3 separate regions of the Homo sapiens genome follow, and regions 1 and 2 are each linked to region 3. The links come from fine-mapping of genetic effects on gene expression. A gene starts in region 3. Each other region holds a variant in brackets. All regions are shown on one strand. Distances are between the middles of the regions. Region 1 has its middle 32 kb from the start of FBLN2. Region 2 overlaps FBLN2 (fibulin 2). Region 3 holds the start of FBLN2 (fibulin 2).

Region 1 (8,172 bases), 32 kb before region 3:
CCGGGGCTGACACCTAGCTGGCCGCAGTCACCCCCACACTGGGTGCCCTGTGGGGTGTGACCTCTCACACCCCTCAAAGGGGTGCAAGTGGAGGCTTGGGGCTGTGGGAACCATCTGGGACTTCCCAGTTTCTGGGACTTTCCTAGCCCCTGCCAACCCTGAGAGGCTGAGTTTCTCAGGGTGTGCCCTGGTCTTGGAACCAGAGGGAAGGGATCAAGTGTGAGGGGGGCTCCTGCTGTGGCAGTGGGGAGTGTGCAGGGGCCTTGCCAGAGGCCCGCTCCCTTCTGGGACCCTCCAGCCAGTGTGCGCATTCCACCGGTTGTCTCGGTAACCGATACCAGGCGGCCAGACAAAGTTACCGTGTGTGTCTGGGAGGCTATTTTGTCTAATATGCTAAAAGGCCTTTGGAAATTCCTGGAGCCCATCTGGTCCTAGTTACCCCACAATATTGCTGCCTCTTCAGCTCACAGACAAGGGAACAGTTTTATTTCTCCTTTTGGAGCTCAGGAATGTGCCTTAAACACGAGCCGGCAGACGCCCACTTGGTGCACGAGTTCCTTGGTCACGTGTCACACTCATCGTCCTTTAAAAAAGGACTGCTGCTCTTTCCCCTTGGCTCCCCAATCCCAAAGGGTCCCTCCCAACCCCATTACCTAGAGAGTGATGTGGGGAGGGCAGATGCTTCGGGGGTGGGCCCGCCTGACTGCGATGTGCCCGGCCTCTGCGTTTTCTCTCCTGTGTCCTGGGGATGGGAACTCCTGAGAATGGAATGCAGCCTGGTGTGTGGTAGGTGTTTGGTACATGCAGGTTTCCCAGCTGGCTCTGTGAACTTAAGTAGGTCCCTTGACCCATCCAAGCCCCAGTAGCCTGCTCTGTAAAACCGGGCTGGAAAGTGTGGTACAGGAGTTTAGGAAGGTCTCAGCCACACCAGGGGATGTGGATGATTGGTCCTTACTCACCCGGCGCTTCTGCCCACCCATGGCTGCCTCCAGAGGGTGTGAACACATCCAGGGCTGCACATCTGAAGCCTCTCTTGCGGGCAGAAGAGATGTCTTCAGGTCCAGCTGCTCCCATGCTTTTTGCGGGGCCGGAGTGTGTTTCTTCCCTGGAGTTCTTGTCCCTTTGGGTTTTTCGGGTTCCTCTGGCCGCAGTGCCCAGAGGCTGGGTGTGGCCGCTCCAGGCTGGCTGAGTCTTGGCAGCTGCCCTACATGGTTGCCTGGGGCCAGGTGACATCCTTCTTGCTTCCTTGAAGAGCTCCCTCTCCCCAGTCCCAGGCTGGAACAGTCACAGTGCCCTGCCCACCTAGGCTATGATTCCAGGGGCTGTGTAAGTGTGTGATTCAAGCTCAGATAACCCTAGACCAGGCTTCTTCCAGGCTGGGCAGGCCTGCACCTCCATCCCCTGCATGGCTAGACGTGGCATGTACTTGTTTTATGAACCATGAGCTCAGTGGCTTGTGTGCCCTCCAAGTGGAAGCTTTAAGAGCCAGTGTGCGATTCTCCACAACCCCTTTGCCACAGCGATGGAGGGAGCACATTTCAAGCTGTAGCCCCCGACAGTCTGGGTCCCTGAAATCCCAGATGACTCAGGTCTCCCAGTCAAACCAGGGCTGACATCCAGTGTGAGCGATAAATAAACCTTGATTGTTTAAGCTCCTGATGCTTAAGGGTGGTTTGTTTCTGCAGCATAACCTTACTGATATCAGCCTGGCTGATACACTTTCCATTTCCCTGATCATAGGGATGGTTTAGAGATATCATGTGACTCAAGAGTCCTTACATTACTTTTACATTTTGAGTGGAAGAGGAAGGACTTTATCTTCTGAGTTATCAAGTTTTAGAGAAGCCATATTTCCCACCACAAACAGAAAGCCTGTCTGAGGTATGAAATAGTAAAACGAAGGGAGAAAAAGAAAAAACATGATGGAAAAGAGGGAATTCTGGTGATGTCAAGATAGGGCTGCCATGAGCATCTGCACAGGTTGTGCACTGCACAACTCTCGAGGCTGCTGTTACACGGTAATCACAGTAGATTTGTGTATTGATTAAAATAATTTTCTAGTAGGCACTAGTAAAGTATTTTGAAGAAGTGGAGCCTTTTTCTAATTTGCAAACAATTGCTGCAAAGGCTAGTGACCATGCCATAATCAAGACCCTGATTTTAATCCTTGAGTCCCCAGAGCTTCTCTAGCTCGATAAGTACTTGGTGTAATTTATTATTTTGGTGAATTCCCTTTGTTGTTAAGTTCTGCTCACAGCAGAACCATTGATAACTCAGACACTCACAAGATGCATCAAGCTTATTTTCTACTTTCCAGAGCAAACCCTTAGCGCTTTTAGAAATAACAGCTCAACAATAAGAGAGAGACAGAACAACCGTTAAATGCAGACATAAGAACAAGAATAACAACAAAATATCAGTTTGGGGCCATTTGTGTAGGTGCAAGTAACGTTCCCTATCTCACTGAGCACCAAGACCTTCACTGTACTGGTCTGTGGCCTGAAAATGGTTCACCATGGTAATTAACGCAGAGAAGACATTGTGTAGACTTCATGTCCTCTTAAAATAGTTAAATTATAACTGTGTTGTTGTCTAAAAGGAAAGACCAAAATTATCTAGAGAGTTCTCATCTGTGTGGCTTAAGCTAGATGAATAACGTATCATTGTAAAAGGATAGTGTCAGCCAAGGTCCAGCCCCCAGCTGTCCCCAGTGTAGGAGGTGGCCCCACTGGCAGCATCCCTGACACCACTCTGACCTGCTCAGGACAGCTCTTTCTCACTCCCCTAAATGCCAGGAGTTTCCAGAAAAAGTCTGGGGGAGGCTGTGGGCTCTGGGGTCAGACACTCTGGGGTGGGGTCCCTTTCCAGCAAGGTGACTCTCAGCAAGTGGTTCCCCGACTCGGAGCCTCGGCTACCGCTTCTCTAAAATGGCAATGGCCATACCCACCTGGGGGGCCATTGGGAGGGTCGGGCGGGCCTGGGAATGACCCAGCACACAGTAGGTGCTCAATGAGAAGCAGCTGGCACCAAGGTGGGATCTGGGTGAGTTCAGAGCCCAGGCACGAGGGCTCAGAATCTCAGCTCGGCCTTGCTGAGTGCTTGGGCGATTCACTTCGTCTCCCAGAGCCCCAGTTTCCTCAGCTCAAACTGAGATCCCCAGGGAGTTGAAACAAGCAAGCATTCTTGAGACTGTGTGTTTCCTTGCCTGTTCTTCCTGCCAGGCAGTAAAGGGGCAGGATTGGGTCTGTCCCTGACTCGACCCCCGGAACAGGGCCTGCGGTGCTTAGTAGGCGCTTGGTAAAGACTCAGTCATTTGCTCCAGTCGGGAGGGAAGTTGGCTGGTGCCTGCTGGGGGGCTCCCCCTGCCCTTCTGACTGTGGGGAGCAGGCCCAGAGCCGACTTTGGCCAGGCCGGGGTAGAGGCCTGCTTCTGCCATCCCTGGTGGGCCCCAGCGTCTCCTCTGAATCCCCACCCTGCTCCTGAGCAAGTGCTCCCATCCCCCACCCTGCTCTGGCGGCTTGGCATAGGTGGGACACCAAGCCTGGAGCTCCCGGCTGCTCCAGCCACCCGAGCCAGCCCCACAATTGTTTTTCCACCTGGAGCGTCCAAGGAGTTGCTGGCAGCCAGGCCAGGCGGGGGAGGCGGGGGGCGGTGTTGGAGGAGACATCAGTGGGCGTGGGAGGAACAGGCTTCACCCTTTCCATCCACAGGGGTACCGGTACTGGGATAAACTGGACGGCACTGGTCAGGGCCCACTTTCCTTTGACCTTAGGTGAATGACTTAACCGCCCCAGTCTCATTTACTTCATCCATAAAATGGGGATAATATTAGTAGCTGCCTCTTGGGGTTGCTGTGAGGAATAAATGCGTCAGCTCATGTAAAGCACTCAGAACCATGCCCAGAAGCAAGTGGTCTTGATGGCAGCCCTTGCTATAGGCACTCTAGGCTGGATGCGAGGGTTCTGCCGCACACAGCTGCCTGGTGTGGGCCAGCCACGTCCACTGTCTCTGCGTACCATGTGCACCCACAGCAAGCCTCCGGAGGTGACAGCCCCTCACAGAAGCTGCAGGAAGTAGAAGCGGAGTGGGTGGCAGCTCCCTCCCTTGCTTCCTCAGCTTTCTCTCCCCTTCTTTCTTCCACCAGCCTGGCAGGTGCCCCCAGAGGCAGGGGATGGGTCCCCTGACCTCGGGGAGGACCCCCAGCCCCATCAGCCGCGGAAATGGTGGACCCGCGGGCCCTGGGCTACTGCCATGCTGCAGCCCTCGGAGGAACTGAGCAGGGACAGGGCCAGCCTGGGTCACCCGATGCAGCTGCACAGATGTCAGGCCCGGCATAGCCGAGGTGTGGTCAGGCTAGGTTCCCCTGGGCCCCGCTATGGGAACAGGCTGTCCCGACAGCCTGGCTGCCATCCCTTGCTGCTGTTGTTTGGAAGATAGAGCAGTCATCAGCCCCAGCCCCCGGCAGCCCCACCCTCCCCT[C/T]GGCTTCTGCAGCTCCCAGGCCTGGGACAGTCCCTGGCTGACCCAGGTTGTGCACTGGGTGGCCTGAGGCAGGCCCTGACCCTCTGTCGGCCTCCATCTTTTACCTCTACTGAGAAACCGGGGGCGGAGCCCTCTGTCCCTGCTGCCCTTCCAACTCAAGGCCCAGGAAAAAGGACAGGAGGCACATGGTGGGGTCCGGGGCCAGGGTGCTCACATGTGCTTAGTGAGCACCAGGAGCCACCTTAGAAGGAAGGTGAGGGATCTGTAACCTTGGTCAGGACAGCCACACAGGAACTGTCTCCTGGACCCAGGAGGAGCAGCAGGACCCAGCCTTCTAGGCAGCAAGGGAAACTGAGGCAGGAGCCCAGTTATAGGGCCTAATAAACTTGATCCAGGAGGAGGCAGCTACTGCGTGGAGACTTGGGCTCCAAGGTCCTTGTGAATCCAGGGTCCAAGACCATCGACCTCCAGCCCTACCCACTGATGGGAAGGAGGCTGCCATCTTTCCCATGCCCGCTCAAGTGAGGCTCAGGCCCCAAGCATGGCAGGCTGGTTTCAGGGGCATTGAAAATGGGTCCTGGGTTCAATCCTGCCTGTGCCACTTCCTGGCTGTGTGACCTTGGGCAGGTCCTTTCTCTCTTTTTCTCCATTTCTTCTATAAAGCGGGACAGTAATGCCACCAACACAATGCCGTAGAGGTAAAGCTTGGCTGTCATGTACACCAAAGGCTTGGTCTGCAGTCTGACCTCTGTGCCTCTGTCTTCCTCCACCTCCCCTTATCCATCCAGAGGGCCCGAGGAAGGAAGCAGGCACGGGTGGGGTTTGCTCTGGCACTTGCTTCGGAGTCCTTGGATACCTCCAGGCAAGTCCTTGATGCTTTTCCCAAACGATGCCAGCCCAGGGATGGATTCTCTGCCTATGGGAACTTGGGTCCATCCCAGGAATGTAGGCCAGACGGTGGGGAGGAGAAAGTGCAGGGTGGAGGCTCGGCCAGCGTTCTACCAAGGTCTCTCGGGCACGAGGTGAAGAGTGGGCACCCGCCTGCAGAGGCAGTGCCAGGGACTGTCGGCCTGGGCTCAGCACAAATGTTGTGGCTGCCCCCCCAAGGGTTGGTGGCAGGAGGCCCGGGGAAGCCTGCAGGCGGGAGCAGATATGTTCTGCTTGGAAGGATGCTTGGGACAAAGCCAGCTCCGGGAGCTCCTCGTGTGGCTGGACACATGGGGCAATTCCTGGGCTAGGGGAGGAAGGCGGCGCCTGCTGAGGGGAGGGAGGGCATCTTGCCAGGGTTGGCAGAGTCTAGGGCCTGGGAGCTGGGACCAGGCATCAGGGCCTGGGGCCAAGGCCTTGGGAGGGCTGGCGAGACCCAGGCAGGCCCCAGCCCGTGGGCCTCGCAGACCAGGACTCTGGGTTCACTGTGCCTTGGGTGTCGCACACTCAGCCCTGAGTTGTCCTCAGGGCTGGTCCTTCCCTTCCCCGAGGCTGACCCTGGAGGGGCGGCTTCCTGGGTTGGGGGAAGCTTGGTGACAGTGCTTCGGCTGACTTTGTCTCCAGAGTCCCCTCTTCCCTCCCCAATGACTCCAGACCTCTGGGGGTGGGCGAGGCCGGGTATCCTTCCCTCCTCTGATACCCTGGCCCCAGCATTACTGGAAGTCCTGCCCCCAGGTCCTATGACACACAGGGCTGGACTGTTTGGAAGACATTCTAATGAGGACAAGAGGGAAATAAACACGGAGAGTCTGGGGAGTGGGACAATGGTGTGTGTGCGTCTGTTGGGAAGGCCTTCCTGCAGTGGTGCTGATGCTGCCGCCCGATACCCACAGGATTAGGCTGAGACTGCACTGCCCCTACCCCGAAACCCCATCTTTGCCGCTCCTGCCTCCCTGGCTGCCTGGCAGGCCTCTCCCAGCACTGCGGGAGTTCTGCCCCCATTCTCCTCCATCTCCTCTCCCAAGAGGCAGCCAGGCTGAGATTGGGGGCCCTTTCCCTCTTTGGTCCCCCGTCAGGAGGTGGGATGAGGTCCCCAAGGAGTCCCCACCCATTTGCAGCCTGAGCATTGGAGAGACTGCTGGGGCTGGGGCGGGGCCAGGGAGCTGGGCACCCACAGCGACCCCAATGGACCTCAGAGCGCCGCAGCCCCTGTCTCAGCTGCAGGAACATGGAGAGCGTGGGTGGAGCTCCATGCTAGCTTGCAAGTCCTCTAGCTCCGACAAGAATCAAGCCATCAGCTTCTCTTCCTCCTAGAGAGGTCCACTGGCTGCAGAGCCTCCAAGTGTCTGGACCCAGAGCTTCTAGCCCACCCTTGAGCAGCCCAGCAAACTCAGTGCTCTGAAAGCTCAGGGGCTTTCGGCCTGAGGAGCTATTCCAGCCCAAGAGGGCTTCCTGGAGGAAGAGACGTTTGAGCTAAGCATTCTAAGCAGAAGGAACAGCATGTACAAAAGCCCAGGGGCACGAGAGAGCAGGCCCCTTCCAGAAGTGGTGGGTGGCCATGGCTAGAAGCCTGGGAGACTGAGGACAGGGAAGAGCTTTGGTATTTTGGATGCCTTCTCCCCACTTCAGGCCTCATCTTGTTTTGGTCTTCCCCAGCCCCTGACCTGGGCCCCTCCCTGGCTCTGCTACTTGCTTGTTGTTAGTCTTGAGCCAGTTACCTTTTCTCTCTGAGTCTCAGTTTCCCTATCTGTAAAATGGGGTGGAGCCTCCCTCCTCCCACAGCTGTTGTGAGGAAAACACCAGCATGAACTTGGCTAAACCCTCTCCCAAGGCCTGGCACAGAGTAGGGCTAACAAGGGAAAAGTGAAAGAACAAAACAGCAACATCAACATAGTGTTTTCCCCTCCTTGCCTTCCGTTGGAACTTCTGTCCTCAGGAAACCTCAGTCCCATCTCCAGGGAAGAATAGAGATCCTGGGCCTGAAGGCTTTTCTGTTTTGGCCTCCCTGTGTGATGCCAAATGAAACCCACCTCCTTCCCGACCCTCAGTTTCCTCATCTGTGAAATGGGAGGGAGGAACCACAAGGCGGTTTGCAAATGACAGCCAGCCCCGCTGCAGTGTGTCCTCCTTTCTGTCATGAGGAAGACCACCTGGATCGCCTACACTGGGACACTGAGGCCCATGGAGAAGGACGGAGTCCCTGCCCTGCACATGCTGTGTGGCCCTGACAAGTCCCAACACTCCCTAGGCCTCTGTCTCCCCGCTCCTGCTCTTTCCAGGCTGTTCTTGGAACTTGCTGGATGGAAGGGACTCCAAGGCAGGGGGCAGAGAAGGCTGAGGGGAGGAAGGGCGCTTGCCCTGGGCGCCCAGGTGCTGCTGGGGTGAGACAGTGCTGAGCTACCTCAGGGGGCCCCCACCCCACCTGCATGTCCCTGCCCCCAAAGGCCTTTCCACCCCTTCAGCCCCACAAGGCAGGTATCAATCCAGAGATGACCCTGCTAGGCCCAGGGAGAGGCTGGCAGTGTAGCCAGGAACTCTGGGTGACTGCTTGGTACCAGCATCCCTTCCTGACAGCCCCACGGGACACTGGACTCTCAGGCCAGAAGCCCCACTCCCAGAGGGGCCAGTGTGTGAGCTGCTGGGAAGAGCAGCTGTCCCGGGCAGGGAACCTGGGGGTTCCTGAGAAGGGAGGTCATTTTACTACGCTCTCTACTTCTGCTAGAAACTTTCTGAAATAAAAACATACAGCGCAGACCCTGGAGAGCA
Region 2 (8,172 bases), 89 kb after region 3:
TTCGTCCTTTTTGCTCTGTCACCCACTTTTGCACATCTGAGTTGCGGCTGACCCTGGCTGTCTCTGATGAGGCTGTGATGGCAGCCCTGGATACGGGGCCTAGTCCAGCTCCCACGTTAGCCTGCGCTCTCCAGGGGCCTGGCAGCGCCGATGGGCGAGGCCCTGGGGCGTTAGGGAAGACCTGCGACTGACCGCCTCCCGCGAGCTTGGTGAGGCCAGGCTGTAGCCGCTCACCCTTCTTGGCCCTTCCCTTCTGGGCATCTCCATCAGCAGCAGCCCAGAGCCAAAGCAAAAAGCTCCCACGTCCTTCCTGCCCCACCCACATAAGCTCCAGGGTCACTGGAGCGGGCCACCGGGGGCATAGGCCAAGGAGCAGGAGGAGGCCCTCTCCATGTGGAGTCCACGAGTGAATAATCAGCAGCCTGGGACCACCCGGTTGGGCTCTACCCTGCCTGGCCTCTTGCCGTGTTTTCTCCCACTCACTTCTGCGCCACCCTGGGGCCTATTTTACGGAGGGAGGGAAGTGAGGCCTGGAGAGGTAAATAGATGTGAGCTGACCCGCTACAAGAGAGCCTGGCAGCCAAGAGCCCAGAGTCTGAGGCGGTCCGGGGGTATTGAGTCCTGGCGTTGCCCTGGCAGCTATGTGACCCTGGGCACATTTGTGGACACCTGCACCTGCCCCGTGGGGTTGGCGTGGGTGCAGAGTCCCTCAAGCATCACAGGGATGTCAGGCAGTAAACTCTGGAGGCAGGCTGACTATTGGTATTATTACTATTATGTTGTTGTTATTGTTAGGAGTCAGCTTGGCATCATGACTGGGTCCCAGATTTTGGCATCAGGCATGCCTGACTTGCTGCCCCGCTCGCTGCTGTGTGATCTTGAGCAAGGCTTTGCCCCTCTCTGAGCCTCCACACCCTCCTCTGTCTGAGGAAGCCAGTGACCCTCGCTGCACAGGGCTGGTGTGAGGACTGAGTGAGGACAAATTCCTAAATGGTGTCAATATGGAGGATTGGAAAACAAAAACTGAAGCCCTCTGTGGTTGCCCCTGGAACACCCCCTGCCCCTACCCCACGGGACTTTCTGGAGGCCTCCTGAGGCGGCCCTCTCTGGGCTGAGCAGCTCATCCTCAAAGTTTCTCAAGAACCCATTTCTAAGACCTTTTGTCCTCCAGGGTGCCTGTGGGTTACACACACACACACACACACACACCCACACACACCCCTACCCCACCCCTGCTTCTCTGAGCTTTCGTGAATGGTATCTATTCATATGTCTGTTGACGTTTATATGTGTATGTTTCTTTGTCCCAAATGGGCCTTCTGTGTGTTTGTTTCTGTGCACCTGTGGAGGTGTGCGTGTGCTCACGTGTGTGCTGAACCTATGTGCCTGTTGGAGTTGCACATGTATGTTTGCTTCTGAATGTACAGGAAGCGTGAGCACGTCTGTTGCTCATGGGGGACATTGACTCATAGCTTTGCGTCTCGGAGTCGGGACTTGCAAGTGATGGGTCTTGGACTTCCATCCAGCAAGAAGTATTGAGCGCTGCTCCATGCAGGCACTCCACTGGGCACTGGGGACAGCATGGGAATGAGAAAGACAAACACCCCTGCCCTCCTGGAGCCCAGGTTGAGGGGGGACGGTAGAAACATACAAAACATGCAGCCATACCAAACAGCCTCGGTGTGTTGCAGAGCATGGAGCCATAGGAGGATGATAAAATGGGGTGGGATGGAGGGTGATGGGGCAGGAGGACCACTGTAGAGTGGTCAGGGAGGCCATCCTGGAGGGGGTGACTCAAGATCTGAGAGTTAAAAGATGAGAAGCCTCCAGCAGTAGGAAAAGCTGGGGATAGCGTTCCAGCAGCAGCAAAGGCCCTGGGTAGGATAAGGGTCAGGCTATTGGGGCAGCCCAAGGATGTCCAGCAGGACTGTGGCCTCTGTGGAAGAGAAGGAGCTTAGAGAGGCCAGAGAGCCTTGCACTGTGTGGCTTGGCATCCAGGGGAGGGAGCTGGGCTTTATTCTGGAGCGCGAGAAGCCTTGGGAGGGCATGACATGAGGTGATTGACACTTTAGAGCCAGGCCCCCTGCTGCGGGGTGCCGAGCAGGTGAGATGGGGCATGTGTGTGCAGGGAGGCACGCGGGCTATTCTCACAGGTCCGGCTGCCGTGGGGCCCAGGCCTTTCATGCAGGCTGGGGAGTTTCAGGCTGGGTCCCCCAGCTGTGGGGACCCTGCCATTGCCCCTCTTCTCCCCCAGACGTGGATGAGTGTGCACTGGGTACCCACAACTGTTCCGAGGCTGAGACCTGCCACAACATCCAGGGTAGCTTCCGCTGCCTGCGCTTCGAGTGTCCTCCCAACTATGTCCAAGTCTCCAAAACGTGAGTGTCCCCACCCCAGTCCCAGTCCCAGGGAGCCTGTCCTGGTCCTGTACTATCCAGGGAGAGGCTGAGAGATGGGCGCCTGCCTTGATCACCTCCCTCTCGTCCCAGCCCCTGACTGCTGGGTCTGTGGGCTAGGTGACCAAAACAAATATAAGTAGCTTTTAGAGAGTTCAGGGTTGAGAGAAGGAAGGGGAAAAGACACACAGAAAACACCAGCCCTCTTCCTCATACACACACATGGTAGTTACTGCTGTGTGACCAGTTATCCCAACCAACATTTAGCACCAGAATACAACAGATACTTACTCTTTGTCACGCAGTGTCTGAGGGCTAGGAGCCTGGGAGTGGTGTAGCTAGGTGGTCTGGCTCAGGATCTCAGGGGCTGCCTGTCCGGGGTGCGGGATCCTGCCACTGCTCATGGGGCTCTGGGCAGGAGGCCTCAGCTCCGCATCACATGAGCCCCTCCACAAGGCTGCTTGTGACATGCCACTCCCCAGCTCAGTGTATCAGAAGTGCCAGCGGCAGCCCCTTAACCTCACTTAACCTCAGAACTGACAGACCGCTACTCTGCCACCAGCCACACGGCCCGGCACTTGGGAGGGACCCTGGGAGGGACACTGGGTGCACTGGGAAGAAGGGAGAAGGAGGAGGAAGGGAAGGGGAGAGGGAAAAGGAAGGAGAAAGGAAGAATGGGAGGATGGCAGGAGGGAGGAAGAAAGGAGCATGGGGACAGGTAAGAGCTGTTAACGAGCCTGGCCAGTGCCATGCTAAACTCACCCATTCCAGTGAGCCGGTGAAGGTTTTATTAACCTCATCTCGCAGGCAAGGAAACTGAGACCCAGGGGACGTAAGGGGACTTGCCTGAGGCTTCCCGGCCATTAGGGAGAGAGCTGGCCCTTGATCCTGCCGCTGAGCTGTGCCATCTGTGTCCCCGTCTGGGGATGAGGGGGGTGGGCGAGCTGTGGGTGACCCGGCCTATCCTCCCTGCAGGAAGTGCGAGCGCACCACGTGCCATGACTTCCTGGAGTGCCAGAACTCGCCAGCGCGCATCACGCACTACCAGCTCAACTTCCAGACGGGCCTCCTGGTGCCTGCGCATATCTTCCGCATTGGCCCCGCGCCAGCCTTCACGGGGGACACCATCGCCCTGAACATCATCAAGGGCAATGAGGAGGGCTACTTTGGCACGCGCAGGCTCAATGCCTACACGGGTGTGGTCTACCTGCAGCGGGCCGTGCTGGAGCCCCGGGACTTTGCCCTGGACGTGGAGATGAAGCTCTGGAGGCAGGGCTCCGTCACCACCTTCCTGGCCAAGATGCACATCTTCTTCACCACCTTTGCCCTGTGAGGTGCCAGCACGGGCCACCTGCGGGTGTGGCGCAGCCCAGGGCTCACACTGCGTGGGAGGGACTGGGTCACTATTGTGGTTTTTACTATAACTTTGTAAATTAACTTAATTTTGCTGACTTGACTCCTGTGGCTTCTGGACCCCTCCTCTGCCCCGCAGGAGGAAGTTCCACGGCAGGTGGTGCGTTCCCACGCAGGCACCAAGTGGAAGCTTGCACGGTGGGCCACGGCCGTGGCGGGTGCCCTGTGGGTGAGGCTGGGTGATGACCTGAGGACCAGAGACACGCGACCATGTTGGGGCTCTTGGACTCCTCTGGATGACCCGTCCCCAAAGTTGACATTCCATTTCATGTTCCACTGTGATTAATTCTTTTCTTTTTTAAAAAATCATTTTAAAGTTTTTTGTTTAA[C/T]TATAAAGTAGTACATGTACATTATATAAAAAAAAGTTCAACTAGTATGAAAGGGTTATAAAGTAACAGAGGAAAACGCCTCTTGGTCCCTTTACTTTTGTAAAGTGTTCAGAGTTTGACAACGTTGTCCAGATGTCACAGGGCTCTATGGCCTGGCCAGCATGTCAATTCATTGATGAAGACCTTGATGTCCTTCTCAACGAGCCCCGAACCTGAAGTTCACTTTGGGATGAGGGCACCCCAGTGTGATCAGTCACTGACCAGGCTCTTTATTCTGCTTTTACCACTTCAGCTTTCCCTCCTCCTTCCTCCTCCCTCCTCCCTCCTCTGCCTTCCCCCCATGAAGACCTCCACTGATGGCCTGTCACTTGGATGTTGTCCAGAACTTGTCCTGGCCCCTGTTGCTGAGCTGTCAGGTCAGGCAGTAGACCTGGGCAGGAGCCTGAAGGAACCTGGGAAACTGAGGCCCTGAGAGCGGAAGCGATGTGCCCCCAGCCCACAGCGAGCATCAGAGCAGGTGTCGGGACCCAGCTCTGATGACCCTGCTCGGGCTCCGTGGGTCTAGAGTTAAATATAGGGGGCGGCAGCCAGCACTTTTAAAATGACGTAGAATAGAGCAGATGAGATATGAGTGCTTCACACCCTGTAAAGAGAAGAACTGCTTCACCAAACCACAGTACATGGGGCGTGTGCACCTATGCGTGGGCACGCTAGCTCTGGCTTTTGGTAGAAAGTGTTTCTCACTGTGGGTGGAGGGAAGCAGGCCTGTCGGGGCGCGCTGGGCAGCACATGCCCTGTGTGAAGGGGGCGCCTACACTTGGCTCCAGCAAGGCCGCCTTCTGGGCGCGTGGCCCGGGATGGCCAGATGTTCTCATTCCTCAACACAAACTCTCTCAGTGTTAAGAGGTGGCGACTTGCTCAGGCTTCTAAAGGACAGGTGTTTGGGAGCCTCTTGCCGGAAGCCTGCGGTGGGGGCCCTCTGTCCCTGCTCCTCGCCGGCCCCCATCCCCAAGGGTGCAGCAGAAGCCAGGTCTTCCCTGTCCCTGTCCGGGCTGTCTCTGTTCCTTCTATTTTGCTGATTTTCAGAAAAACTAGATCCGGCACCTTTGTGGTGCACAGTCCCCACCAGCGGGAACCAGTAGGTGACAGGCTCCATTCAACAGGACAGGCAGGTTAGGGACACCCCTGGCTGGCAGCAGCCGTTCCTGCTCCTACCCAGCCCCGGTTACTCCTTCTGGGACCTCAGGCAAGTGACTTCGCCTCCCCTCACTGGTCTCCCCTGTGAACAGGGGCTCCAGCTGTTCTTCCTGCACAGGCCATCGAGCCAGTAAAATGAACTTGGCACCCAGCGCATCCATACGGAGGGTCTTGGAGAACAACTTCTCTCCGGACCTTAGAGTTTCTAAGGTGATTCTAGAATTCCATGCCGGCAAGTTTGGCAAACTGCAGCTTCAGGGAATAGCCCCTACAAGACTACCCTCACTGCAGACCAAGAACTGCACACCAGAAACAAGCTCAGGCATCCCTAGGACCACCCTCACGTCTGAGCAATGGGCTACAGGTTTGGGGGTCCTTACATCCACCCTCAGGCTCATTAATTCACCTGCATGACTCAGACAGTTTATGGTGAAAGGAAGCAGGTTAAAGTCATTGATGAATTCTAGAGCAGAGTCCAGGAGAGCCCAGTCACGGAGCTCCCGTGTCCTCAGGATGCAGCACAACAGAATAGAGCTGAACAGGGCACCTTTGGGGTCCAGGTGTGTCTGGGAGCTTGACCACCTGGCTGTCAGCGTGGCTGGCCCTAAGTCTCCAGTCCCTCGCAGAGGTCAGAACTGAGGCAGCAAAGCCCCTGAAAACGCTGGTACTCCAGTGCCAGCCAGGACGTTCTGGGGGCCGAGAGCTCACCCTGCAGGCCACCCCCGGCCCCGGCCCCAGCGTTCTCGCAGTGGAATAGTCACGTTTGTCTGGGCAGCTCCTTCAGCGTTGCCTGCTTCCTCCCTTGTGGCAGGGCTGCCCGTGCCTATGAAGCATGTAAAGAACCACCGTGTGCAGGCGTTAGCCCGGGGTTGGCTCCACCTAGCTCTTCCGCAGGTGTCATTCTCCATCGTTGCTACATCCTGAGGAGGCTGGAACTCAGGGTTTCAATACATTTGCCATCACCATCAACGTTATAACCTTATCAACCGTGCCAGGTAGGACCATATTGCAGTCTGGTGGATGTCACCTAAAAAGGAAGACCGGAGTCCCACTCAGTCATAGCAGTTTATCTAGTCCATCACCACATCAGATCAGCAGATGTCCCCCAGGGTGAGGCCACTCAGGTTTGCAGGCTGCCATTCGACCTTGTCAAGTTCCAAAAGCAGAGGCGGCCTTGGCGTCACCCTTTCAGGCATCTAGTGTAGTTGAGCTGAGACGATGCCCTCCACGCCGCTCTTAAGGTAGTACTGTAATGTAGGATTCACGTAAAATTGGATTTCCCGGCCGGGCGCGGTGGCTCACGCCTGGAATCCCAGCACTTTGGGAGGCCGAGGTGGGCGGATCCCCTGAGGTTGGGAGTTAAAGACCAGCCTGACCGACATGGAGAAACCCCATCTCTACTAAAAATACAAAATTAGCTGGGTGTGGTGGCACATGCCTATAATCCCAGCTACTCAGGAGGCTGAGGCAGGAGAATTGCTTGAACCAGGGAGGCGGCGGTTGTGGTGAGCTGTGATTGTGCCATTGCACTCCAGCCTGGACAACAAGAGCGAAACTCCGTCGCAAAAAAAAAAAAAAAAAAAAAAAAAAAAGGATTTCCCTCACTACATAACCCACGTACTGGTTGCTTTACCCTCAGCTCCGGTTCCTCCTTTTCTCCATTTGTATCCAGGTATTTCCACCTTTGGAAGGGCCATGAGGTTCGGCCATGCTGTTGGGCCGGATTGTCAGAAGCAATGCCAGCCTAGCAAGTGCCTCCCTGACAGTCCACTCCGGTTGGTGTAGGATGGGGCTTCACAGGTGTAGAACTAGTGGGCTGTCTCCACCACCAGGCAATGTGCCTGCCCTCACTAGCAGCCCTGATTTTTCCGGATGGGGTGAAGGCACCATCCACTCCATCAGCCCTCAGGAGCTCTGGCATGAAGCTTTGGAGCTAGAGGTGCACCCTCCTGCCTAGGAGTCATTGCTACCTCAGCACTTGCAGCTGCAGCCCTGGTCCTGGGGCCACTGCAGCAGATAGGAAAGGAGGAAGGCGAGGTGATGTGGAGAAGAAAAGAAAAGCAGTCTTACCAGCAACCTCCCTTCCCCAGTTCTCTTAGAAAAGGCATAGGAGGCCAGGCACAGTGGCTCACGCCTGTAATCCCAACACTTTGGGAGGCCAAGGCGGGTGGATCACTTGAGGTCAGGAGTTCGAGACCAGCCTGGCCAATATGGTGAAACCCCATCTCTACTAAAAATACAAAAAAAAAAAATTTAGCCGGATGTGGTGGTGCACGTCTGTAATCCCAGCTGCTTGGGAGGCTGAGGCAGGAGAATCGCTTGAACCCGGGAGGTAGAGGTTGCAGTGACCTGAGATCGCATGACTGCACTCCAGCCTGGGCAACAGAGTGAGACTCAAACAAAACAAAACAAAACAAAAACAGAAAAGAAGAGGTGTGGGACTCTATCTAGCAGGGACCCTCTCCTGGCCCTTCTCATGTTTGGGGTGGACACACACTTGTGATGGCGTGCAAGTCACTCTTTCCTGCCCCACCACCTCTGTTTTAGACAACCAGTATCCATGACATGTTCCAGTTCTCTATCCAACCTTACGCCAAGGATGAGAGTGCTCTGCCCCTTGTGGGACATTCAGGGCTGTAAAGTGTGTCCCTTGGTCGGGAGAAGTGTGAGTGGGCAGTGCAAATTCGTGCACTGTCTCCCATCGCCACACTTTTATAGTACCTCAAGCGTCTGCTGCCAGGGAGGCAAAGCCCAGGTGAGAGTCAGTGGCTCGCCTTTCCCTGTCAGGGCCCATTGGTGGCCTCCTGGGGCTTCTATGTTTGGTTTGTCTTGCCAGC
Region 3 (8,172 bases):
CTGGTGTGCAGTCCACTCTTGGGAGGAGGGAAGACGGAAAGAGACTTGTGCAGGCTTTGGGGGTCAGGGCCATTTAAGCAGGGACTTCCGGGCACTGGCATATGATCTGGAAAGGAGTAGGGGGTCATCAGGGACTCCTGGCGGGCACATCTCATTGTTCTCTTAGACTCTTCACTCTGGGGAGGGACAAAGCTGGAAGAGGAAGGCTAGAGGGAGGTACCCCAAGTGGTGTTTTTCAAATCTGGCAGCACATCTTACAACCTACTGGGGATTACAAAAAAAAAAAAAGTACTGATGCCCAACTCCACCCTCTGGAGACTGGGATTTAATTGTTCTGGAGTAGAGTCTAGACAGTGGTATTTCCAAAACAACAACAACAACAAAAAAAAAAAAACAAAAAAGAGAAATTCCCCAGGTGATTCAGATGCACTGCCAGGTCTGAGAAGCCTTGTTCTAAAGCCTGGGAGCGGGTGTGGTGTCCTGGGTCTTCGTTGGGCAGCAGGATGGCAGGTGGGGCTGTCCCCTGGGGGAGGTGGGCCTATGTCTAGATATCTTTCCTATCGTGTGGAATTCTTCCCCTCGAGGGTCTTGGGGGGCCTGGACACTGACTTTCCTAGTATCTCTTGCAACTGGGGACAGATGGGAGACCCACACTGCCCCCACTGTGGCTGCAGCTGCTGTCAAATGGGAGGTGGGAGAGATGACTAAGCAGGCTCAGGGCCGAACCCACTGCTGGGGAAGGAGAGGCACTGTGACCCTTGGAGGGAGCTGGGGAGAAGTCCTGGCGGGGAGTCCGGGGCCCACCATTCAAGGAGTGGGCAGCCCTCACGCTGTCTGCACCCAGGTGGGCAGCGAGATTTTGGGCCCTGTCACTGGGCCTTTCTCCCCGAAGCTTGGTTTCCAGGCACACTGTGATCACAAATTTCTTTTCTCATCCAAACAGCTCAAGTTAATGTTGTTTGTGATTAACAACAACAAACATTTAATGGAGGGCTTATGATATACCAGACACTGCTGTAAGCATCTTAACTTCAAAACAATCCTATAAGGCAGGAACTTCTTTATAGGCTAGGACACTGAGGCCAGAGGGTTGAAGCCACCTGCTGAAGGTCATACAGGGAGGATGTGGATTTAAATCAAAGCCATTGGGTCCCAGAACCCATGCTCCAACGTAGGCAGCCTCCCCAAGGCTACCCAGTGAGGATGCAGACCCAGGAAGCTCAGCAAGGCTTCTCTTCCCAATCCAGGCTGCACAGGTGGGACAAGTGAGCCTCATGCCTGCTGGCCCTGGCGCCTCAGTGCCCAGGGAGCTGGTGAGATTGTCACTGATGTAAATAACTTCGCTGCCCACTGTGATCATTCTGTCTAGGCCTTATCAGCCTGACTTCCTCCAACCATTTCTCAGCCAGGCCCTGGGCCCCAAATTCCTGGTGGGTGATGCGTGCTCTGTCTGCGATAACAGTCTTGGAAGGGCTCTGAAGGGACAGCCGCTTTGGCCGCATCTCCGGCTCAGATAACAGGACGGGAGAAGTGTCTCCACTTTATCTTGTGGAAGGCGGGCCAGGCCTTGGGCTCCCTGGGCTGCAGAGTGAGCTGCATCTGGCTCAGTGCCTCTCCTCCCAGGCCTGGGGAAGGGAGCCTCATTAGCAGCTGCCCAGGGTCTCTATCACCCCAGGCCACTGCCCCTCCTTCCCCCACAGGAGGAAGGATTCAATCTGTCATTTACTCATCAGATATTTACTGAGCACTCCCTTGGGTCAAGTCCCATCCAAAGTACAGATAATCCCTGACTTACGATGGTTCGATTTAGGATTTTTTGAATTTAGGATGTTGAGAAAGTGGTACACACCCAGGAGAAACCCTACTTGGAATCCCCAGGCAATCATTCTGTTTTTCACTTTCTGTGCAGTATTCAATGAGTTACATGAGATATTCAATGCTTCATTATAAAATAGGCTTTGTATTAGATGATTTTGCCCACCCGTAGGCTAGTAATGGAAGTGTTCTGAGCACATTTAAGGTAGGCTTGGCTGAGCTATGATGTTCTGTAGGTTAGGTGGATGAAATGCATTTTCAACTTACTATATTTTCGATTTACGATGGGTTTATGGGGACATGATCCCATTATAATCGAGGAGCATCTGTACTTTCGGTTTGGCTCATTTCGGTTCATTTGATCTTTCCAATAACATTATAAGATAGGCTTTGATGTCGTTATGTTCATTTTACAGTTGAGGAAATAAAGCCCAGAGAGGTGAAGTAACTTGCCCAAGGTCACACAGCTGGTGTGTGGTGACTTTCTTAATGACCAGGTGATCCTACCTATAGTCATTTATAAATGAATAAGAGAAATCAGCCAGTGACAAGTACTGTAATAACAGTGCGGCCGAGTCCCAGGGTGGAGAGTGGTAGTTGCTACCTCTGCTGGGGTCTCAGGGAGGGCTTCTCTGGGGGTGGTGGGATTTCAGCTGCATCTTAATGCAGGGATGAGTCAGCCACGGTGGATCTGGGGAAGAGCATCCCAGGCAGAGGGAACAGCAATGGCAAAGGCCCTGAGGGAACAGCAAGCACAGAGCTCCAATGGGGAAACGGGCCCAGAGGGAAGGCACCTGCCTGGGGTTAGACACAAGTTGGGGCAGGCCAGGCACAGGCTGCCAGCTCAGGCTTTGGCCCCTCCATCCGCTCCTGGCTTCTCTGTGGGTGGCCCCATCTAAGCCAATGGGCCCTTCCTGGCTCCACCTCCTCTCTGCTGTGCGGCCCTGGGCAGGCAGCTGCCCTGCCCTGTGCCTTTGCTCTTGGCTGCCTCACCCCTGTCCTGGGCTGCAGGGAGACCCCTGGGGGTGGGGGCAGGCACACTTTGGGCCCATGGCTGCTGCTCAGATGTGAGGTGGTGACCACCAGGCCATACGTCTCTGGACAGGGATGGGAGAGACTCAGAGAGACACAGAGACCAAGAGATAAAGTCAGAGGGAGATGCAGAGACCAAGAGGGACAAACCAAGGGAGACAGAGAGATGACATTAGATCAGAGATGGAGACCCCGAAAGAGACCCAGAAAGGGATCGGTGTGGGCTGGGGGAAGAGACACCCCGGGGGTCACACAGTGGTCACAGGCATCAGAGCTGGGCTGAGGAAAAGGACAAACTGAACCTGTTCCAAAGCTGGGGGCTCAGTACCGTCTGCCCAGGCACATGCAGCAGCAGTGGGGCTGCAGGCAGGCCCCCAGGGTAGGAAGCAAGGCGGGTGGGAGGCAGGGCCTGGCCTCTGGGCAGTTTTGTAGCCGGGCCCCTCAGGCCCTCACAATGTGCCCAAGGCTGCTGGGCCCATCTTCCAGGGGTGATCACTGAGGCTCAGGCTGGCTGAGGTGGCCGGACCCCAACCCCTGGCCCTGCCCTGTGGGCAGCAGTGCCAGGTCTGGCACTCAGAGGTTAGGCCGGGCGCAGGGAGGGTGCGGGCTCCGCAGCGAGCGCGCCGGGCGGCCTCTAGGAGCCGGGTCAGCGAGTCTGGGCTCTGAGCGAGCGGCGCCGGCCCGGCCCCCTCTCCGGCGGGCGGCCGAGACCCCGCCCCGGAGGCGGAGGCGGAGTCAGGGGAGGGGGCCGGGGGCCGGCTGGTCCCGCCTCTCGCGCCTCCGCCCCGCCCCGCGCGCACACAGCCAGGGGCCGCCCGGGCTCTCGACGCGCCGACGGCCGGGCGGACGGACGGACGGACGCCGAGCGCAGTGCCCCGCGGTGAGTGCACGCGGCCCCTCCCGCCCGGACTCATCCCCGTCGGTCCGCGCCTCGCAGCTCAGGACTCGGGGGCGCTCGGACGCACCGACGGCTCGGCGGACCCTCGGACGCGCCTCGCGGGCTGCCCGCGCCTCCACCCGCGCCGCCGGTCCGACCGGGTCTCGCTCTCCCGGTCCCAGCGCGGGGACGGCCCGCGAGCGCCGCGACCCAGTGTACAGATGCGGGCACAGAGGCCGGCGCGGGGTGGGGGCCAGGGGTCCGCGGGCGGGTTCCCCCACCCCAGGTCCGCAGCTTCCTCCGCTCTGGGTTTCACTTCTCCCCCCTGGGCCGGCTCCCACCAGTCATCCCCTCTGGTCCCACTGCCCACCCCCACCCCGACCGCAGGACCTTGCCGCCCCTCCAGTCCAGAGGGCCGGGTCAACCCCCTCGGGGAAAGAAGACTAGAGTCCCTGGTCTAACACTACCCCCTCCATCACCCCCAAGTCACACTCACCGCCACACACGCACTCACACAAGCAGAAGTTTCTGCACGCTCTGCATTGGCGCGCCCACCCTGCCTGTCACCACATCCTCCCTCTCCCAGCCCCATGCTCACCCCGCCAGCTCCCCCAGGCCAGAATCTCTCACACTCATCTCACGTCCCCTTAGCACACAATGCTCCACACACACATGCCTTGCACATTGGCACCCCTCCGAGGCATGCCTCTAGCAGACAGTTGTGTCTCTGATAAACACATGTGCCCTTACTGCCCTCTGACACGCACACACGTCCGCCACACAGGGGTAGCTATCACATGCATATCTCCATCATATGTATCACACATGTGTCTCTCACATGCGTGTGCTCCTCAAATACCTGGAATCACAAACACTGGGAGTGCCACACACTGTGAGTCTCACATACGAGTCACAGACCCCCACGACTTCACAGTCCCAGCCCCCCTGGCACTCCATGGGCAGTCCTCCCCTGTCCTAGGGGGTGGGGAGCCGATTTTGGAGGAGGGAGGTGGTTCCTCCTGACAGAGGCTGCTTACCATGGGACCTGGGTGGCTGTGGGGAGCATGGGGGTGGCTCAGCCTCAGGCTGGGCCTGACTCCTCACCTCCGTGCATCCTCTCTCCCTTCCCCTGCTCCAGTCTCCGAAATAGGGGTGCCCTCCCTCCCTTTTTTGCTGCCACAAGGAGTTGCCCATATCAGCTTTGCAGTGATCACTTGGGCCAGTCCCAAGCAGGCCTGAGCCAGCAGGCGTCCCCTGACAGGCCAAAAAGAGAAAAAGGGAAGTCAAACAGGATGGTTTGGGTGCTTGTGTCTACCCTGATGCCCCTGAGATGCTGGTCCGGGCCCTCCCAGAGGGAGCCCTGATGAATTGGGTGGCAGCTGAGAAGTGTTCCCTCAGCCTGGCATGGATTGGGAGCTGGTGTGTGTTTGTGGCTGATAGGGGCTCTGGGCCTTAACTTCCCCATATGCCAAATGGGGTGAAGACTCCCCAGCAGGAGGAAGAGAGGGAGGGGGAGCTACTCCCCTGGGGTGCACCCTTGACTTCCCGCCCTCCCCTTCTGCAGCTGAGCTGTGTGATGGGGGTGAGCAGGGGATGAAGTCAAAGAATCTTATTCTGGAGGCACAAACCTGCCAGCCCCGGCTGTGGCTGGCCCTGCATGTTTTGTTTGGCTCTCACCATGTTATTATTATTTTAAAAAATTAATTAGCTGCCTGCATTTACAAATTGGCAGTTTTCACGTAAAAGTCCGGATTTCCGTCTTCTCTTGAAAAGTCACAAGGTCTGGTAGTTCAGGATCTGCATCTCCTGGCTGGTGCTGCCCACCCCCAACCCAGGGGATGGGGCAGGGGCGCTGTTTGGTCCCCGTCCCCACCTGGCCCTCTCATGCCTTCTCAGCTCCTGCCTGGCCTGCGTGGCCTTTGTGCGGCTGTGACTGCTGCATGCATTGGGCTGATTTTGCTCCATTGCCCGCCTCAAGCATAGGCCCAGGCTGGTCCTCCATGCATGGCTGGGGAAGCCCTGGGCGGGCCTCCTACCCTTCGAGGCCTTAGTCGTTGAAGCAATGAGTGGTGCCCAGGGCCCTGGGCCACAGGGCATCTTTGTGATGGTGGCAGACACTTCCTGCTAGGCTGTGGGGGACGGTGGTATGGGGACCCCGTGAAGCAAGAGCTCATGCCAGAGAGCATTCTCCGAGGCAGGCTTTATTCATCACTTTTCTTCCCAGATCCCGACATCCCTCCTGCAGGGTGGAACTCTTGCACCTATTTAAGAGACGGGGAAGGGGAGGTAGAGAAAGGGCCTCCCAGCAGGCAAGGGGGAGAGCTGGGGTTCAGCCCAGGATCTTTTCCCTCCAAAGCAAAGCTCTTTGCCCCTCTTACTGAGCCACTAGTGGGAGGACTTGGTCTCCTTGGCCGTGGGGGGAGTGCCCTGAGCCCATCCACACCTCACACGCAATAGGTGCTTCGTAAATGCTTGGGGCATGCTGATGGTAAGTGAAACTGGGTTCTCTGCAGCAAATTCGGGCCTAAGGTGAAGATTGCACAGCCACTTGACCTCCATCTCTTGACCTCGTGATCCGCCCGCCTCAGTCTCCCAAAGTGCTGGGATTACAGGTGTGAGCCACCGTGCCCGGCCCCTCCTTTTTTTTTTTTTTTTTAAAGACAGGATCTCGTCCTGTCTCTCAGGCTGGAGTGCAGTGGTGTGATCACAGCTCACTGCAGCCTCAAACTCCTGGGCTCAAGTGATCCTCCAGCCTCAGCCTCCCAAGTAGTTGGGACTACAGACGCACACCAGCCAGCTAATTTTCTATTTTTTGTAGAGATGAGGTCTCACTTTGTTACTCAGGCTGATCTTGAACTCTTGGCCTCAAGTGATCCTCACTCACAGCAGGTGCAGGTGATTGGGTGTGATGAGGAGCTGCTGGTGGATTCTGGTTTGGGGAGGGGTGGGGTCTAATTGAGATCCTAAAGGTCCCTTCCCCCACACTGCTGCTGGCAGGGAACAGGCTGGAGGGCAGCTGTGGGGATCCATGCAGCTTCCAGGTGAGAGAAGTTGGGGCTTGGATTAGGGCAGTGGCAGCATTGGAGGTGAGAGTGGTCAGATTTGGACTGACTTTGCAGGTGGGGCTGCCAGGATTTCTTGATGGATTGGAAGTGGAGTGAGTGAAAGGGGAGGCCAGGGTGAGGCCGGCTGTCCTGCCCGGTGGTGGACGTAAACACCATGCATGGCTTCTGGTCCTTAGCAGCCCTCTGTCATCCAGTTTCCTTCCCCAGGTCCCCGAGTGTGGGTGGTGCAGGTGTCCGTGTGGCTGCAGGCAGCTCTGCCTCCAGGGCGCCTTCTGAATGCTGGGGCTGCAGAGGTCTACCCTCCCAATAGACCAGACAGAGGCGCTGCTCCTGTATGCTACAGGGGCAGAGGGGACCACAGGGCTGTACCTCCAGCCAGGCATTATAGGGTGGTGGGAGCAGTGGGTTTGTGGCTTCACCTCGGGAGGGCTGGGAGCTGTGACTGGGTGTTGTGTGGGGGCGGCCAGGGAGGGGCTCCCTGGAGTTGGCGTTCCTGCTTTAGCAGCTCTATGAAACCCTTTGCCAGGGAGTGTGCCCAGGGCCTTGGATTCTCTTCATCACCCCACAGTGCTGGCAGTAGCCTCTGGTGTGGGCCAATGCTGTGCCAGGGGCTGGTGTACAGAGGAGCGGAACACAGGGCCCCTTTTAAGGTCATCCCCAGGGGTGCCTGCATGGGTTGCTCTGAAATGCTTTGTCGGGGCCATCCTGGAGGAGAACGCTGAAGCCATGGGAACTGAGGAGGCATCTAGCTGAGCCTGGGTGGTCAGGGAGGGCTTCCTGGAGGTGGCGCAGGCACTGTGATATGAAGGTACAGGGGTGAGGGGCACCTGGGGACAGAAGAAAGCCTGGCTTCTTTCAGAGTGGGGGCTTGGAGGAAGAGTGGGAAGTAAGGCTGGCAAGGCCAACTAGACCCTGAAAACGGAGGCCCTCCAGTCCTGGTCTGCGAGCGAGCAACAGGCAGCCTCAGGGCGTTCCGAGCAGAGGAGGCGCGGCCAGACTGTGAGGTTGAAGGGTCCCTCTGCAGCCCAGGTGTAGGAGTGGGCCTGGAGAGGACAAGGCGGCAGGTGGGAGACCTGTGAGAGTGACAGGGCCGGGAAACTGAGGCGCAGAGTGGGGCGTGCTTGCCTGCAGTCACATAGCGACTGAGGAGGAAGAGCTGGGACGGGAGCCAGCTCCGTCCACCTCCAGGTCCTGCCTGGCGAGCTGCCCTCGTGTACGGGGCACCACTGCACGCCCACACCACAAACTCGCCTCAGCTGGGCACGTCCTTTCCCAGGGCCCCTCGTGGGTCAAGCCGTGCGTCATTTTGTGCCATTGTCTTCAGTTATTGGAATTTGGAAACGTTGCAGAAATGCCTCTCTCTCCCCTCATATATGGAGATTG

The links. PIP is the estimated chance that this variant, and not a neighbour inherited with it, causes the effect.
Region 1: its variant is fine-mapped to the expression of FBLN2 in thyroid (GTEx, PIP 0.99). The same link has a PIP of 0.9 or more in tibial nerve.
Region 2: its variant is fine-mapped to the expression of FBLN2 in tibial nerve (GTEx, PIP above 0.99). The same link has a PIP of 0.9 or more in thyroid.

What each region holds. Positions count from the first base shown.
Region 1 is chr3:13,513,076-13,521,247 of GRCh38, forward strand. No RefSeq gene overlaps it. Among named protein-coding and RNA genes, the nearest start is that of FBLN2, 32 kb to the right of the region's middle. RefSeq lists enhancers at 1-148, 2,895-3,823, 5,197-6,086. The variant C/T (reference allele first, on the strand shown) is at 4,480.
Region 2 is chr3:13,634,191-13,642,362 of GRCh38, forward strand. It overlaps FBLN2 (fibulin 2), which reads left to right. Exons shown (of 18, transcript NM_001004019.2): 17 at 2,255-2,378; 18 at 3,372-4,214. The coding sequence ends at 3,729. Among named protein-coding and RNA genes, the nearest start is that of LINC00620, 12 kb to the right of the region's middle. The variant C/T (reference allele first, on the strand shown) is at 4,139.
Region 3 is chr3:13,545,482-13,553,653 of GRCh38, forward strand. It overlaps FBLN2 (fibulin 2), which reads left to right and starts at 3,644. Exons shown (of 18, transcript NM_001004019.2): 1 at 3,644-3,727. RefSeq lists enhancers at 5,007-5,615, 5,616-6,222.